Linked DNA regions of Homo sapiens: region 2 is linked to region 1. A link means that fine-mapping ties the variant in region 1 to the expression of a gene that starts in the linked region. Tissue or cell type: whole blood. Region 1 holds a variant in brackets; the other region holds the start of a gene. All regions are shown on one strand. Distances are from middle to middle.

Region 1 (8,105 bases):
TATGTACCCACAAAAAATGTATTACTATTTTTTTTAATCAGAGCTTCATATTAGGATCTGAATTCGTTAGTGTCCCCTGAAGGGGAGTCACCACTGCACAGCCTTCTTGAGAACTTCCTTCCCTATTTTCTTAGCCTCCTCCTCCTCACGAAGTTACAAAACTCCAGTACCCTCATAGTACAGGGGAGAAATAGAGATGACCTTGGAATTCTACCATCAAAATCAAAGCTGCGGCCAAGATTAAAATCCAAGTTTCTGGCCGGGCGCGGTGGCTCACGCCTGTAATCTCAGCACTTTGGGAGGCCGAGGCAAGTGGATCACTTGAGGTCAAGGAGCTCAAGACCAGCCTGGCCAACATGGCAAAACCCCATCTCTACTAAAAATACAAAAATTAGCAAGGCAGGGTGGTGTGTGCCTGTAATACCAGCTACTTGGGAGGGAGGCAGGAGAATCGCTTGAACCTGGGAGGCGGAGGTTGCAGTGAGCCGAGATCACACCACTGCACTCCAAGCCTGGGCGACAGAATGAAACTGTCTCAAAAAAAAAAAAAAAAAAAAAAAAGATTTTCTGAGTCTGGTATGCTAGGGTGGATTTCATGGTCATTGTGCTCAAATGTAGAGATAGGATATATTTCCCTGCTCCTGCCACAGGCAAGGTGGGACTACCCTAACTTAGAAAACTGTCGGCCGGGTGCAATGGCTCATGCCTGTAATCCCAGCACTTTGGGAGGCAAGATGGGCGGATCACAACGTCAGGAGTTTGAGACCAGCTTGGTCAATATGGTGAAACCCTGTCTCTACTAAAAATACAAAAATTAGCCAGGTGTGGTGATGCGCGCCTGTAGTTCCAGCTACTCGGGAGGCTGAGGCAGGAGAATCACTTGAACCTGTGAGGCGGAGGTTGCAGTGAGCCGAGATCGTGTCACTGCACTCCAGCCTGGGCAAGAGAGTGAGACTCGCCTCAAAAAAAAAAGAAAAGAAAACTGTCACTTCACCTTGGTTTGTAACGGCAAGTCCAAGTGCTCCTGGGTTTCTACAACTGAGAGAAGCTCCTAATATCCTGGGCTGTACCAAATAATCAAACGAGGTCTAGTCATAAAATCCTAGTCAAATTGTCTGTCTGATCCCCTAGACTTTGTAAAGGAGTGAAGAGAGAAATGAGATGAAGGAACATAAAGAATGTAACTTCAAGGGTCAAATGAAACAAAGCCGGCCTGAAGGAGAGAAAGGAGCGGTCAAATCCATCAGCCTAAGACCTTTAGTCCATGTTTAAATTGATTTATACAATTTCCAAACATTACAGGTAGAGTAAAAACTTCGAACTTTTGGCTCCAAACACTTCTCTGCTCACATTCAGAAATGGAAGGATCAGATAAGACCTGAGAACAAACTTCAAGAGATAGATGGGAGTCTTTTTGATGGCTGAAAAACCGGTTCCTACGAGATCTGAGCCATTTCGTCACAAACAAAAGTAAGAAGATGGGTAGTTTTCTCTGATACCCCCACTGCATCTGAGATTTCTCATGCTTTATCTGAATTCATTATGCTGTTCTTTTTGAAAATCCAAGATATCCAGCCTGGCTAACATGGTGAAACCCTGTCTCTACAAAAAATACAAAACTTAGCCAGGCGTGGTGGTGCATGCCTGTAGTCCCAGCTACTTGGGAGGCTGAGGCAGGAGAATCGCTTGAACGGAGGAGGTGGAGGTTGCAGTGAGCCAAAATTGCGCCATTGCACTCCAGCCTGGGGGACAGAGTGAGACTCTTTCTCCACAAAAAAAAAAAAAAAAAGAAAAAAAAAAAAAAAGAAAGAAAGAAGGAAAGAAGGAAGGAAAGGAAAAGAAAAGAAAAGAAAAAAGAAAATCCAAGATATCTGGGGCCAAGCCTACAAGGGCAAAGGGTAGCTGCAAAGTCCTGACACCTACTCTCAAAACAGTCCGGATGGTTGGCAGTTCCTCTGGCTCTTCCTAGAGCAGGCAGGCCTGACACATTCTGAGGCTTCCTTCACTGCTCCCAGATGCTCACACAGCTGGGGATCAAGGCCAGTATCTAGTTGTTTATATTCAAGTATGAAAAGCCTGGCGGGTAGCAGCCCCTTGGAAGGGTAACATTTGGCAGCAGCTCATCAACAGTCCAAGGAAAACACAAGGTGGTCAAACACTCTCAACTAAGGCACACAGAAAGCCCAGCGCATCTCCTGGGGGATGAGACCGATTTATTTAAAGGACAAACGGAAAGGAACCACGAGGATGTGGAACAACTCTCCTGAGTCCAACCAGCAGAGCAAGATGAGTACCAACACCCACTGCCATCTACCCTCCACCTAGTCTGTCATCAGGTTACCAAACTCAACCCAAATCCCTTTTCCAAAGCAGCGTGATGAGGTTTGCTACTTACTTTCTGCCCAAGTCCTGGGAGCCCTGTTGTCCAGTAGGGCTATGATTCCTCTTTAACTGATCCCCACTATGGCAGTCATTTCTGGTCTAGAGTAGTTGTCCCATCTTTAACAATTTATCTCATTCTTTTGAGAGGCCTTGGCTACTCTGTTATTCTCCTTAGTTCCTGCTGACTGCAACAGTGTTGGGCCAGCAGGTTTGGGGAAATAATCCTTGGGTCTAACATTTATTGTGTTATTCTTAGAGTGCTCCTTGCAAGCAAAGCTACTGAAAGCCAAAGTAGAAAAAGCTGCATATAATGGATGAGAACAGCTCACCTCAAGGGACCAGCCACAGCGCTCCTCAGATCTAAACGCTCCCGCACAGAAAGCAAAGGAGCGTCCATTGTGGCACATGCTTGTAGTCCCAGGCAGGCTGAGGTGGGAGGACTGCATGGGACCAGGAGTTCGAGATCAGCCTGGACAACATAGTGAGACCACCCCCCCGTCTCTAAAATAATAAAATAACATAAAATATTTAAAAAAAAAAAAAAAAGAAAAGGAAAGGAAAAAGGGCAGGTCAAGTATCAGTGTATTTAGAGGACCAGAAAGGATGGAATGCGGTTCTCTCTCAGGCCTCATATTTGTTGAGAAGGTTTACAACAGCAGTGGTCCCTACTTTTCTCCACACACAGCCCACCATGTATAAACAGCAATTTCTGGGTGGGCGTGGTGGCTCACGCCTGTAAACCCCAGCACTTTGGGAGGCTGAGGCAGGTGGATCACCTAAGGTCAAGAGTTCACGACCAACCTGGCCAACATGGTAAAATCCCATCTCTACTAAAAATACAATAATTAGCTGGGTGTGGTAGTGCACACCTGTAATCCCAGCTACTCTACTCAGGAGGCTGAGGCAAGAGAATCACTTGAACCCGGGAGACGGAAGTTGCAGTAAGCTGAGGTTGTGCCACTGCGCTCCAGCTGGGGTGACAGAGTGAGACTCTCAAAAAAATAAAAATGAAAAATACATAGCAGTTTCCAAGGCAGAAGGAAAGAACCAATTCCATCGAATTTCTTGCAAAGCAGCTGTTATGACGATCCTGAGGCCAGGGAAGATGAATCCCTTATTTATAAAAATGAAAGCGGTCAAGATAGCACCTGTAAGACCAGAATGAATCTGGTCACTCTGCTACACCAAACAGGCCAAGCCCCTGGCTAAGGAATAAATTGCTTCTTAAGGAGCTTTTCTTAATCTGGCACCTCTTTATCCAGGACCAAATCAATATATTAAAAAAAACTCCAAGTGTTGATCAAACCTGGTGACTCTAGCAGAGCAAAGAAGAAAACAAAACTGTCACCATCTGTATTTGTATTAGAATAACCTTACTAAATTCCATTTATATTAGAAATCTGGCATGAATAAGCAACAAACAAGCACGTGAACTACAATGGAGTCAAAGGAGCAGGGACATGCAGCAGGAC[G/A]GCAGGGTGGGGGTATTCCAAGATGCCCCGGTAGTACCTGATTCTGAATGAGAGAAACCCCCAGGAGATTCTGAACAAATCTGAAAGAAAATGCAACAGCATTACGGTACTCTGTATGGAGAAATGTCCATCAAAACAAGACTCTAAATCTGTAATACCAACTACCCAAGAAACTGAACTAGAGGATGCCACAGGCCTGAATGCATCAGGAGAGGAATCTAGTGGCATTAAAAAGTCTTTTCCTGACCAGGCGCAGTGGCTCAGGCCTGTAATCCCAGCACTTTGGGAGGCCAAGGCGGGTGGATCACATGAGGTCAGGAGTTCAAAACCAGCCTGGCCAACATGGTAACTTCTTAAGTTACCCCATCTCTACTAAAAATACAAAAATTAGCCAAGCATGGTGGCACACACCTGTAATCCCAGCTACTAGGGAGGCTGAGGCAAGAGAATCACTTGAACCCAGAAGGTAGAGGTTGCAGTGAGCTGAGATCATGACATTGCACTCCAGCCTGGGTGACAAGAGGAAAACTGTCTCAAAGGAATAAAAAAAAAAAAGGTTTTTCCATGAACCAAGTCCTTGAAATGAAAATGATCTATCCTCTCACATCATGATACTTGTGAACTTCAGTATCTGTATCTTCAGTATTTTTGTCCAAACATACAGTTTCCATTCTTGTCAGAGGACCAATACCAGATTTGTCAACCAAGAAAGGTAAACATCAACCTCACACATAACATCAACATCATACATAATCTTATACCTCACTTTTAAACCTATTCTTTTCAGAACCACTAGAACTTATGAGCAGTACTGTCATTGAAAACGATGGAATCTTCCACCATACTCAACCCTTTCAGGGCCTCTGGCCAGAGCTGCCTGATGAAAATGTGAATGAACACACAGTCACTAGGCTTACACGCTGGGCTGAATAGAATGAAACTGATCCTTTTACAGTTCAACTTTCTTAAGCCCATACCTCTTAAGAAGAAGATTCCAATTCATCCTTATGGATCCTTAAACTTCAAACTATATATAAAAAGGAGTCTTAATGTGATATGGGGAGAGGCACCTGCAGAACTGACCATCAGCTATCAATGGCTAAAATGATTACAGTCCTCAGAATTTTCTCCAAAGGCAAATATGCCCCATTACATAGAAATACAACATGCCTGCTCAGCAAAGGAATTGAGGTAAATTCTGAGCAGCTGAGGGATAGCTTGGATCACTGGTTGGCAAATGTCTTTATCGAGGAAATACTGGAACAGAAACATTGATGGTTTTCTTAGAAGACCCTCTTGGTCCTTCAAGGATGTGCCCAGTTGGAGACAAGGCCAGCTTTCCCAGGTAATGCTACTTTTAGTAGGAAAGGCAATAACTACCCCCACAAGACTGAGTGTTTATGCTGTTTTTCTTCTGTAAAATCAAAGATCTTTAATCTCTAAGGTCACTTGGAAAGCGTGGTAGGGTCCCGAGGTCAAGTCTGCAGCATTCTTATGCCTTTCCAGCAGAAATGAGACTCCACAGGCTGGTAGGAAGGAGCTCCTTCTTCCAGGCAGGCAGCTGGTGTGTCCACAATGCTCTGTGGGCAAAGGAAGGAAAAGGCCTCTCATAGGGAGACGAGCAATGCCTGTCATCAGGCCTGCAGTCTACCCAAGACTCCAATGTTTGAGGACAGAACACGACCTACTCCTGGGCTGGTAGCATGGAAAGTGCTGGAACCAAGTTCTTCACAACAAAGACATCCAATAACTTAGGGCACTGGTTCTGCTGCAAGAAGGTGAGATTCTACATCATACATTGGGGACTGGAAAGACAGAATGGATACACACAAATGAAGGAGTGGTTCTAAATTCTAGTAAGCCTGGGTGATACAGCGAGACTCCGCCTCAAAAATAAATAAATAAAAATAAATAAGTTCTAGTAAGCCAGTGTTGCCACTTTATTTAAACCTGAGAAACAGTTCCTTTAGAAAGCATTAAAATGGGAGCAATGGAAAGAGTCCAAATGACGTTCCCACACTTCTCAATTCACTCCCTGCATCAATGCAGCATGGGGTGATGCCTGGCCCTGCTTGTTGGGAGAGGAAAGCCATCTCTTTACAAACGAACGCCTGCCCACCCAGTCTGCCTGTTACAAAGGGCCGTCTTTCTGAATTTGTTCTAGAGAGCTGATATGATCACAGTAACAGTTTCATTAGGACACCCTGCTCCTTTAATTTCTGCTCTAAAACAAGACAGCTAGACAGGAGAAAAGACCAAGAAGAGAGTCAGATCCTCCTGTTTGGACTTGACCTGTAAGAAAGGCTAGAGACAAGAAGGGCTGGGATGGTCCCAGTGATGTGGGCAGTGAAGGCCAAAGCACCATTGCCATGGAGCAATTCCCACATTCCTAGAGAAGCCACGCTCCACGTGAATAGGTAAGGCCAATCTCCCAGGAGGATTAGTATCAGGGGAGAAATCAAGAAATGCTAACACAGAACTTAGCTTGAGAAAACAGCCAGGGGAGAACAAAGTGCCAGTATTACCTGATTGCTAAATTATTAAATTGCTGCTTAGGCTAAAAAGCAATGGTTCCTTAGGCCCTGAATTAAAGGCACCTGACACAGACCAGCATGAGGACTGAGAAGCCCACATAGTGACCTCCACTCTGACCATACCCAGCTTTCCCCCACTTCCCTGCAGACCCTATGGAGAAATCTGCCCAGAGAATCAGGCAGGAAAAGATGAGCCAGTGCCTGGCTTGTCCCTTGAGCCACCAAAGTCAACAAAGCAGACAGAACTGGCAGGGTGCCAGGGAGGCAAAGTGGCATCAGCTTCTCCCAGCAGGGCCACGCCTCACCACAAATGGACTTTTAGAACAAGAGTACCCTACCCTCACAACAAAGGTCACTGCATTTATTTTCCTTCTCCAAAGCAAAATGGCTGAAGCCAGGAACTGCACTTCTGGTCAACACAGTTAAGGTCCTTCCCACTCTGAAAGACAAAATGCACTTTGCTTGTTGAAACACAGCAGGATGAGGATTTTCCACATGGGCTTCTGCCTTTTTCACAGGAACCACGAAACCAGAGGAAACTAAGGGTCCTTGCTTAGGGCCTTGGGGGAGTACAAAGGGAATTGTCAACAAGGAAGGAAGAAATAATCTCAAATGGCATCAGTCCTATTCCCTGAAGGGGAAGACACATAGTTCATACGAAAAGTAAAGTTTTGACCATGGCTTGGGAAGACTCTGATCACCAAAGGGAATATGTAACAAAGAACTTGCGTGGCCACAATGAGCCAAAGCCAGCAGAGGTGACCTGAACAGGGAGTACAGGAGCCCAGGAACAACCTGGGAATACCCTAAAGGCTCTTTTCTAAAGTCTAGACTTTCTCCAAAATGTGATGTGTACACACCAAAGTACAAACTGAAAAGACATTTTCTGAGCTTGTGAGGAAATTACTACTTATGTGAGTCCACTCTGCTTATTTAATAGGTGGATGTGTTTTACAGCATGGGGCACATCTATCATGGGCATTAGGGAAGCTCACAAATAGCCCCTGATAGTGACAGCCACTGGACATTGGTGATTTTTTTTTTTTTTTTTTTTTTTGAGATGGAGTCTCGCTCTGTCACAGAAGGCTGGAGTGCAATGGTGTGATCTCGGCTCACCGCAACCTCCGCCTCCCAGGTTCAAGCGATTCTCCTGCCTCAGTCTCTTGAGTAGCTGGGACTATAGGCGTGTGCCACCAGGCCTGGCTAATTTTTGTATTTTTAGTAGAGACAGGGTTTCACCATGTTGGCCAGGCTAGTCTTGAACTCCTGACCTCAGGTGATCCACCTGCCTTGGCCTCCCAAAGTGCTGGGATTACAGGCATGAGCCACTGCACCCAGCCATTGGCGATTTTTATGTTTTTAGCTGGAGTCCTCAAGTTAGAGAACAAAAATGCTTTTCTGACCCTCTATTCCCACCTTATATGTATATTTAGATAATTGATGTTTAACTTTAAGGTTCTAGCCACCCACCTGAACCAGTTTTATTATGTGGGGTGGGAAGTGAGATAAAGCCCCCTAGATTTCCTCTGCGATCTATAAATAGAGCTTCAGGAAGGCAATCAGCCTACCTAGGGCAGGAATTTCAGTCCATTTGCTCAGGAGGCTCCTCCCTCACTTCCAATCCAGAGGCCCCATGGAGCTAAGTCAGAGGGCGCCGATTCACATCATGTCCCCAGTGGCAGCAAATGAAAAGGCTCAGATTCTCCTCATTTTCACA
Region 2 (8,105 bases), 61 kb before region 1:
CACAACCCTAGGCAGTTGTCAGCTAACTAGCCTTATGTTTGCATATTAAAGGAAACAACTCAGGTGAAAATCAAATAGCAAAATTTACATCATAAGGTACAGAGAGAAAAAGTCTGATGGTGCCAGAGGGAGATGAAAGATGAATGCCAAATCAAACATAAAATTAAAGAAATTTGCCGGGTGTGGTGGTTCATTCCTGTAATCCCAACACTTTGGGGGGCCGAGGTGGGCGGATCACAAGGTCAGGAGATCGAAACCATCCTGGCTAACACGGCGAAACCCCGTCTCTATTAAAAATACAAAAAATTAGCTGGGCGTGGTGGTGGGCGCCTGTAGTCCCAGTTATGTCTGTACTCTCTGGAGTACAGAGATCACCCCACTGTACTCCAACCTGGGTGACAGCGAGACTCTGTCTCAAAAAAAAAAAAACAAAAAAGAAATTTATCATAGGATTGTATAAGGAGACTAGTTTTATTTAGATAAAGGGACTACCTTTTAAGTGGATCTCTGAGCTCTGGGCAGAGCCCACACTGAATCCTGGGTCTCCAAGAAGGGACACTTATTATGAGGTTAGAACACGTGATGCTTTTACAGTGCACTTTTTAAAAAACTTCTTTTAAACAAAGACATTTCTAAGTGTCTAAACCATAGTCTTCCTTAAAAACCCAAGGGTAGGCTGGGTGCAGTGGCTTATGCCTGTAATCCCAGCACTTTGGGAGGCTGAGGCGGGCGGATCATGAGGTCAGGAGATCGAGACCATCCTGGCTAACACGGTGAAACCCGTCTCTACTAAAAATACAAAACAAACAAACAAACAAACAAACAAACAAAAAACAAGCTGGGCATGGTGGCGCTTGTAGTCCCAGCTACTTGGGAGGCTGAGGCAGGAGAATGGCGTGAACCCGGGAGGCGGAGCTTGCAGTGAGCCGAGATTGCGCCACTGCACTCCAGCCTGGGCGACAGAGTGAAACTCAGACTCAAAACAAACAAACAAACAATACAAAAAACAAAAAACAAAAAAACCCAAGGGTAACCTCTGTTGCAATAACTATTTTAGTCAAAAAAAAAAACAAAAAAAAACCCAAAAAAAAACCACAAACAGGTAACAACAATACAAAAGTAAGCAGTTGAAGAGACGAGACGAACTTGCCTGTTTACACTCTGGGGATTGCATAAGAAAAAACAGGTTTCTCCCTTAAAGGGAGCCTGGTGCCTTCTCTGTTCTCTTTAAGGAACCCCAGCTATTATAAACTATTTTAGGTCCCTCATGCAGCAGAGGGTGCAAGAGAAAGGAGATACAGCCGAAGTAAATGAAGAAAACAGAATTCAGTCAACTGAGAAGAAAAAAACTTTCGCTCAAAAAAAGACAAGATTCTTGGAGAAAAACAAAAACAAAAACATGAAGTCCTTTTAAATACAAACACACACACGCACATGCGCACACACACACACACCACACATACACATGCACATCTTCGATGTTAGCTTTTAATTAAGCTGACTTTTAATCATTGAGCTCCTTTAAAAAAATCTTTTAAAATCTCATTACCATATTTCAGCTAGGACAAATTGCTGCTATTTCAGAAGCACAGCCATTGCTCTTTCAGTTTGGCCTGGCTAGCAAAAAGGTGGCCTCGTTGTGTAACTAAAGCCACTTAGTAGTCAAAATAAAAAATCTTTCCTTTTTTTTTTCCTTTTGCTGGCTGTTTTTCACCCCCTATCACATCATCCTTTGTGTATGTGTGTGTGTGTGAATTTAGCCACTTCAGAGGCCTTGTTCCCCATAATTTGGGACTTCCTTTGTATTTGATCAAGTCAGATAGAGTTGATCAAACCCAATGGGAAAAAGACTGAAAGAACAACAAAAAGAGAAATGAACAACAACAAAACAGTTAAGCAAAACAAATGATCACACAATTTATATGATTACTAAGCTTTCTAGTGGTAAGGAGAAATTAAGACCAGCTGGTTGTAATCTTAACTTTAGCCAAAACAAACCCCAATTCAGTTACTTACCTAGGGATGGGTTTCAGGCTGAAGACTGCTCTCTACCATCCTAGAAGCAGGGAAAAACCCTCATCTTCCCTGTTGGTTGCGAGCTCAAACACCATAAAGGAGTTACCTGCCTTCCATCAACATGGAAGCAGGAAAAATTTGCCTTCCTTGTGTTAGAAGCAAGTAAAACTCCAAAAAAAAAAGAGGAGTTGTACAACAAAATGAACTTTAGATCTTGACCAGATTTTGAAAGATAAGGTATTCTCTGGAGGGTGTGCTTCCGGGCCTCAGCAAATTGTCCTATTGGTTTGAGCCATAAAGATAGCTCAAGCTGGTACCAAGCACTGATAGCTTTGTCAAAGGTCAGGGGCGCCTCCAGTCAGAATTCTTCTGTGGTTACCAAAATATGAACCCCCCAAATCTGAGAAAGGTCTCAGTTAATTTAGAAAGTTTATTTTGCCAATGATGATGGTGTGACACAGCCTCAGGAGATCCCAATGACATGTCCCCAAGGTGGTCAGAGCACAATTTAGTTTTATACATTTTGGGGAGACTTGAGACGTCACTCAACATACGTAAGATGAACATTGTTTGGGTCTGGAAAGACAGGGAGGGGGCTTCCCGGTCATAGGTAGATAAGAGACAAATGTTTGCATTCTTTTGAGTTTCTAATTATCCTCTCAAAAGGAGGCAATCAGATATGCATTTAGCTCAGTGATCAGAGGGGTGACTTTGAAAGAATGGGAGGCAGGTTTGCCTTAAGCAGTTCCCAGCTTGACTTTTCCCTTTAGCTTAGTAATTTTGGGGGCTCAAGATATTTCCCTTTCAGACCTCTTCAGTAGAATTCTTTCTTCTGATGAGGCAAGCATTGAGTTTTATGTAGACCTGTATGGATTTCCCACCACTCACATGAAGACCATGACCTGTGACACATTCCCTGGAGGTCCTGAGAACATGTACCCAAGGCAGTTGAGTTACAACTGGTTTTATACAGTTTAGGGAGGCATCAGACAGTAATCAATATAAGCAGGGTATGCATTGGTTCCTTCTGATTGAGGGAGGAGCTTACAGGTCATAGGTGAATTCAAAGACTTTTCTGATTGGCGCTGGGCACGGTGGCTCACACTTGTAATCCCAGCATTTTGGGGAGCCAAGGCGGGTGGATCACTTGAGGTCAGGAGTTCGAGACCAGCCTGGACCAACATGGTGAAACCCTGTCTCTATTAAAAATACAAAAATTAGCTGGGCATGGTGGCACTCCTGTAATCCCAGCTACTTGGGAGGCTGAGGCATGAGAACAGCTTGAACCCAGGAGATGGAGGTTGTAGTGAGCTGAGATCACGCCACTGCCTGAGCAACAGAGTGAGACTCCATCTCAAAAAAAAAAAAAAATTTCTGATTTTCAATTGGTTGAAAGAAGTTATTATCCAAAGACTTGGAATCTTGGTATACAACAACAAAATTTTTTTTAAATAAAAAATTTTAAAAAAGACAACCTGGAATCAATAGAAATAAGCATCTGGGTTAAGATAAGGAGTTGTGGAGACCAAGGTTCTTTTTTTTTGAGACAGAGTCTCGCTCTGTCGCCAGGCTGGAGTGCCGTGGTGCGATCTCAGCTCACTGCAACCTCCACCTCCTGGGTTCAAGCGATTCTCCTGCCTCAGCCTCCCAAGTAGCTGAGACTACAGGCGTGTACCACCATGCCCAGCTAATTTTTGTATTTTTAGTAGAAACGGGGTTTCACCATGTTGGCCAAGAGGGTCTCTATCTCTTGACCTCGTGATCCTCCCACTTTGGCCTCCCAAAGTGCTGGCATTACAGATGTGAGCCGCTGCACCCGGCCCAAGGTTCTTATTATGTAACATAGATGGTAAATGTCTAAGGCGTTAAAAGGTGCCAGACTCTTAGTTAAATCTCCCTTAGATCAGGATAAAACCTGGAAAGAGGCTGGACGCGGTGGCTCATGCCTGTAATCCCAGCACTTTGGGAGGCCAAGGCAGGTGGATCACGAGGTCAGGAGTTCAAGACCAGCCTGGCCAAGATGGTGAAACCCTGTCTCTACTAAAAATAGAAAAATTATCTGGGCACAGTGGCAGGCACCTGTAATCCCAGCTACTTGGGAGGCTGAGGCAGGAGAATCGCTTGAACCCAGTGGGTGGAGGTTGCAGCACGCTACTGCACTCCAGCCTGGGCCACAGAGTGACTCTGTCTCAAAACAAAACAAAACAAAACAAAAAACCTGGAAAGGGGAGGGGATTCTCTACAGATTCTAGATTTTCCCCACAAAAGACAGCTTTTTGGAGCTATTTAAAAAAAAAATCAGAGGAATATATTTTGGGGGTAAAATACATTGATTTCTTTCAGGGCCTGCTATCTGTCAGGTGATGCTAGAGTCAGGTTGGAATTTGGTATCTTATTGCTACAAAGAGTCTGTTTTGTGTCTTAAGATCAGAATGCCTTAAGGTCTCTGTTTTAATGTTAATGCTGGTCAGTTGTGTCTGAATTCTAAAGGAAGGAGGGGGATAATGAGGCTTGTCCTAAACCTCTTCCCATCACAGCCTGAATTAATTTTTCAGGTTTATTTTGGAATGCCCTGGGCTGAGAGGGAGGTCCATTCAGTCGGTTGGGAGGCTTAGAATTTTATTTTTGCCTTACAGTTTCCCAAAACGTCCAGTGAACCTCGCCTCTCCTTTAGAAGTGTCGTCCCTGGAGCCCACGAAAATGTCTGCAAGATCTGCAAGGGCCACCTTAAAGCCCGTGCCACCTTAAGCAGGCCCCACCCCTGGCCTAGCCAATGGGCTGACAGCAGCAGTAGCTGCTGCCACAGTAGCTGACTGGTCACCCTGCCACCCAGTGCTCACACCCTCTGGCCAGTGCCTGGCTATGGCCCGACTGCTCAGGTCTGCAACCTGGGAGCTGTTCCCCTGGAGGGGCTACTGCTCCCAGAAGGCAAAGGTACCGGGAGAGAAGAGAAGTCCTCTGGAGGGATGAGGTGGGGAGCGGGGAGCAGGGGGTTCTGATCCCAAGTTTCCTGGGCTCTGTGACGCCCCAGCACCAAGTGACCTGACCTTGGGCAAAAGGGCACTGGGCTTACCCTGTGGCAACTGTGGGTGGGTGTAGAGTGAGATCAGCTGAGTCCCCACTGCTACCATGAGTGGGGCTGGGGGAGTCAAATGGATGCCCCTGGAATAAAACACACCTGTGGAAGAAGGCCCTGAAGGAAAGGGCCTGGGTTCCAGGCCAGGCTCTGTCCTTAACTTGGCCTCCATTTCTCATCTGTAAAATGGGAAGAAACACATCCCCCGCCCCGCCGCGCCCCGCCCCCCACGAAGGGCCCAGAAGCCCCAGGCAACGTAGAGTGGGGAGGGGGCAGTGGAAGCTTTTCCTCCCCCTAATTCCCTTATCAAGCTCTGAGTTCCCTGTGGCTGGGGTGGTGCTTGGTTGGCCCTGGAGAAAGGAGGAAGTGAGGGATCTTTTCGGTTGCTCAGGCTGGGCTGGCTATTGAAGGAACCCTGCTGATAGCCTTTTTGGAGAGTGAATTCTGGTTTTTTATTTGGATGGCTGGGCGCTGTGGCTCACGCCTGTAACCCCAGCACTTTGGGAGGCCGAGGCAGGTGGATCGCTTGAGCCCAGGAGTTTGAAACCATCCTGGGCAACATAGTAAGACCCTGTTTTTATTAAAAAAGAAAACATTAAAAAAATTCTGGTGGCGTTTTTTTCTGAGGGGAAACTTTGACCCCCAATGGCTCTGTTTGGAAAAGAGGCATTTCTGGATAGTGGGTTTGTTTAAAGTGGGCCCACCTGGCAAGGATGTTGTCAGCGGGGCGGGCGCAGGGGAGGCTCACTCCAGCCTCCAGCCCCCAGCCCTCCCCCCGACACTGGGGCAGGGCTGTGGCCCCATGTGTCTTTCGGGGGACCCTGGCAGTGTGTTTCTTCCCTGCAGGGAGAGCTCTGCAGGGACTTCGTAGAGGCTCTGAAGGCCGTGGTGGGCGGCTCCCACGTGTCCACTGCCGCGGTGGTCCGAGAGCAGCACGGGCGCGATGAGTCGGTGCACAGGTATGGGAGGGTTCGCGGGCCCCTCCCCTGTCTTCTGGATTCAACCCCAGCTGAGAGAGAGGGTGCTGGGTTGCCTTCCTCCTCACTCATCTGTTTTGGGGTGCTCTGGCATGTTCTCTGCCCCTCGCTTGCTGTAGCCTCAGGCCCTGCAACACCTCGGGACCAGAGGGTGTCACGCCCCGCTAAATCGCTGAGGGTCTGGTTCTAGGTGCGAACCTCCTGATGCTGTGGTGTGGCCCCAGAACGTGGAGCAGGTCAGCCGGCTGGCAGCCCTGTGCTATCGCCAAGGTGTGCCCATCATCCCATTCGGCACCGGCACCGGGCTTGAGGGTGGCGTCTGTGCTGTGCAGGTACAGTGGGGCTCCCTCGCCCGGCCCGAGGATGGTCCCAGCACACCTTGGCACACCTGTGGCTGCCTCCCCCGCCACACACGGCACCTTGGGTCTGCTCCCGCCCGTGGGCTGCCTGCCTCTGGGGGTCTGGTCTGGCTGCTGGGGGGACACCCGCGGGGTGTGGTCCGGGGACGTGGCCAGGTCAGAGACCCAGGTCTGCAGTGGTCTTAGCACCTGCCCCAACCAGGGCGGCGTCTGCGTTAACCTGACGCATATGGACCGAATCCTGGAGCTGAACCAGGAGGACTTCTCTGTGGTGGTGGAGCCAGGTGTCACCCGCAAAGCCCTCAACGCCCACCTGCGGGACAGCGGCCTCTGGTTTCCCGTGGGTAGGACTCGCGAACCTTTCCTGGGACCCTGAGGGCACCGTGGGAGCAGGGCTGTGTCTGGGGTTCAGGGGACCTTCCTCCCCCAGCCCGAGGGAAAGGACCTCCGGTCCCTGAGGCTGCCTTCTGTACGCCGCCCTCCAGACCCAGGCGCGGACGCCTCTCTCTGTGGCATGGCGGCCACCGGGGCGTCGGGGACCAACGCGGTCCGCTACGGCACCATGCGGGACAACGTGCTCAACCTGGAGGTGGTGCTGCCCGACGGGCGGCTGCTGCACACGGCGGGCCGAGGCCGGCATTTCCGGTGAGCGCCCTCTGCGGGGGGCCCGGGCTCTGGCCCTGGGCACTGCTGGCGGGCTGCCCTGCAGAGACCGGGCTGTGAAAAGCACCTCCTGGCGGCCCCCTGGTTTGGCAGGCTAGGCTTCCTCAGGCTCTGAAGCCCTGTCAGCTGGGCCAAAGTGGATGGGACCAGGGTTTGCTCTCCCTGCCTGAGGCCGACTGGCTTTGTGGAGCAGAAAGCACTGGGCCAGGGAAACTGGGCCCGAGGGAGGCCAGCCCAGACCTCAGTGCCTGGGGTCGGTGTCTTGGGTTCCAGCTTCGGCTTCTGGCCAGAAATCCCTCATCACACAGCCTGGTACTCACCTTGTGTGTCCCTGGGACGTAGGAAGAGTGCAGCCGGCTACAACCTCACGGGGCTCTTCGTGGGCTCCGAGGGGACGCTGGGCCTCATCACAGCCACCACCCTGCGCCTGCACCCTGCCCCTGAGGCCACAGTGGCCGCCACGTGTGCGTTCCCCAGTGTCCAGGCTGCTGTGGACAGCACTGTACACATCCTCCAGGCTGCAGTGCCCGTAGCCCGCATTGGTGAGCTGAGGATGGGGGCAGTCAGGGTGGGCTCCCTGGAAGAGGCCCCCTGGGAAGGCCAGGCCTCACCTGGCCTGCCATCTCCCTGGATCCAGAGTTCCTGGATGAAGTCATGATGGATGCCTGCAACAGGTACAGCAAGCTGAATTGCTTAGTGGCGCCCACACTCTTCCTGGAGTTCCATGGCTCCCAGCAGGCACTGGAGGAGCAGCTGCAGCGCACAGGTATGCTGGGGTGGAGTGGGGCAGCAGGGTGGGCTGCCTCAGTGGCGGCCCGGTGTCAGCCCCCCTTCCCCAACTGCAGAGGAGATAGTCCAGCAGAACGGAGCCTCTGACTTCTCCTGGGCCAAGGAGGCCGAGGAGCGCAGCCGGCTTTGGACAGCACGGCACAATGCCTGGTACGCAGCCCTGGCCACGCGGCCAGGCTGCAAGGTGAGCTGGGGCTGGGGTACAGATGGGGCCCACAGCTCGGC

Evidence for each region. PIP is the estimated chance that this variant, and not a neighbour inherited with it, causes the effect.
Region 2: LDHD starts here. The variant in region 1 is fine-mapped to the expression of LDHD in whole blood (INTERVAL, PIP above 0.99).

Annotation. Positions count from the first base shown.
Region 1 is chr16:75,052,930-75,061,034 of GRCh38, reverse strand. All of the region lies in intron 1 of ZNRF1 (zinc and ring finger 1), which reads right to left. Among named protein-coding and RNA genes, the nearest start is that of ZNRF1, 58 kb to the right of the region's middle. The variant G/A (reference allele first, on the strand shown) is at 3,855.
Region 2 is chr16:75,113,494-75,121,598 of GRCh38, reverse strand. It overlaps LDHD (lactate dehydrogenase D), which reads left to right and starts at 4,819. Exons shown (of 11, transcript NM_194436.3): 1 at 4,819-4,950; 2 at 5,939-6,051; 3 at 6,260-6,401; 4 at 6,631-6,772; 5 at 6,914-7,073; 6 at 7,434-7,633; 7 at 7,729-7,857; 8 at 7,937-8,064. The coding sequence starts at 4,879. It also overlaps a transcript of ZFP1 not described here. RefSeq lists an enhancer at 5,294-5,588.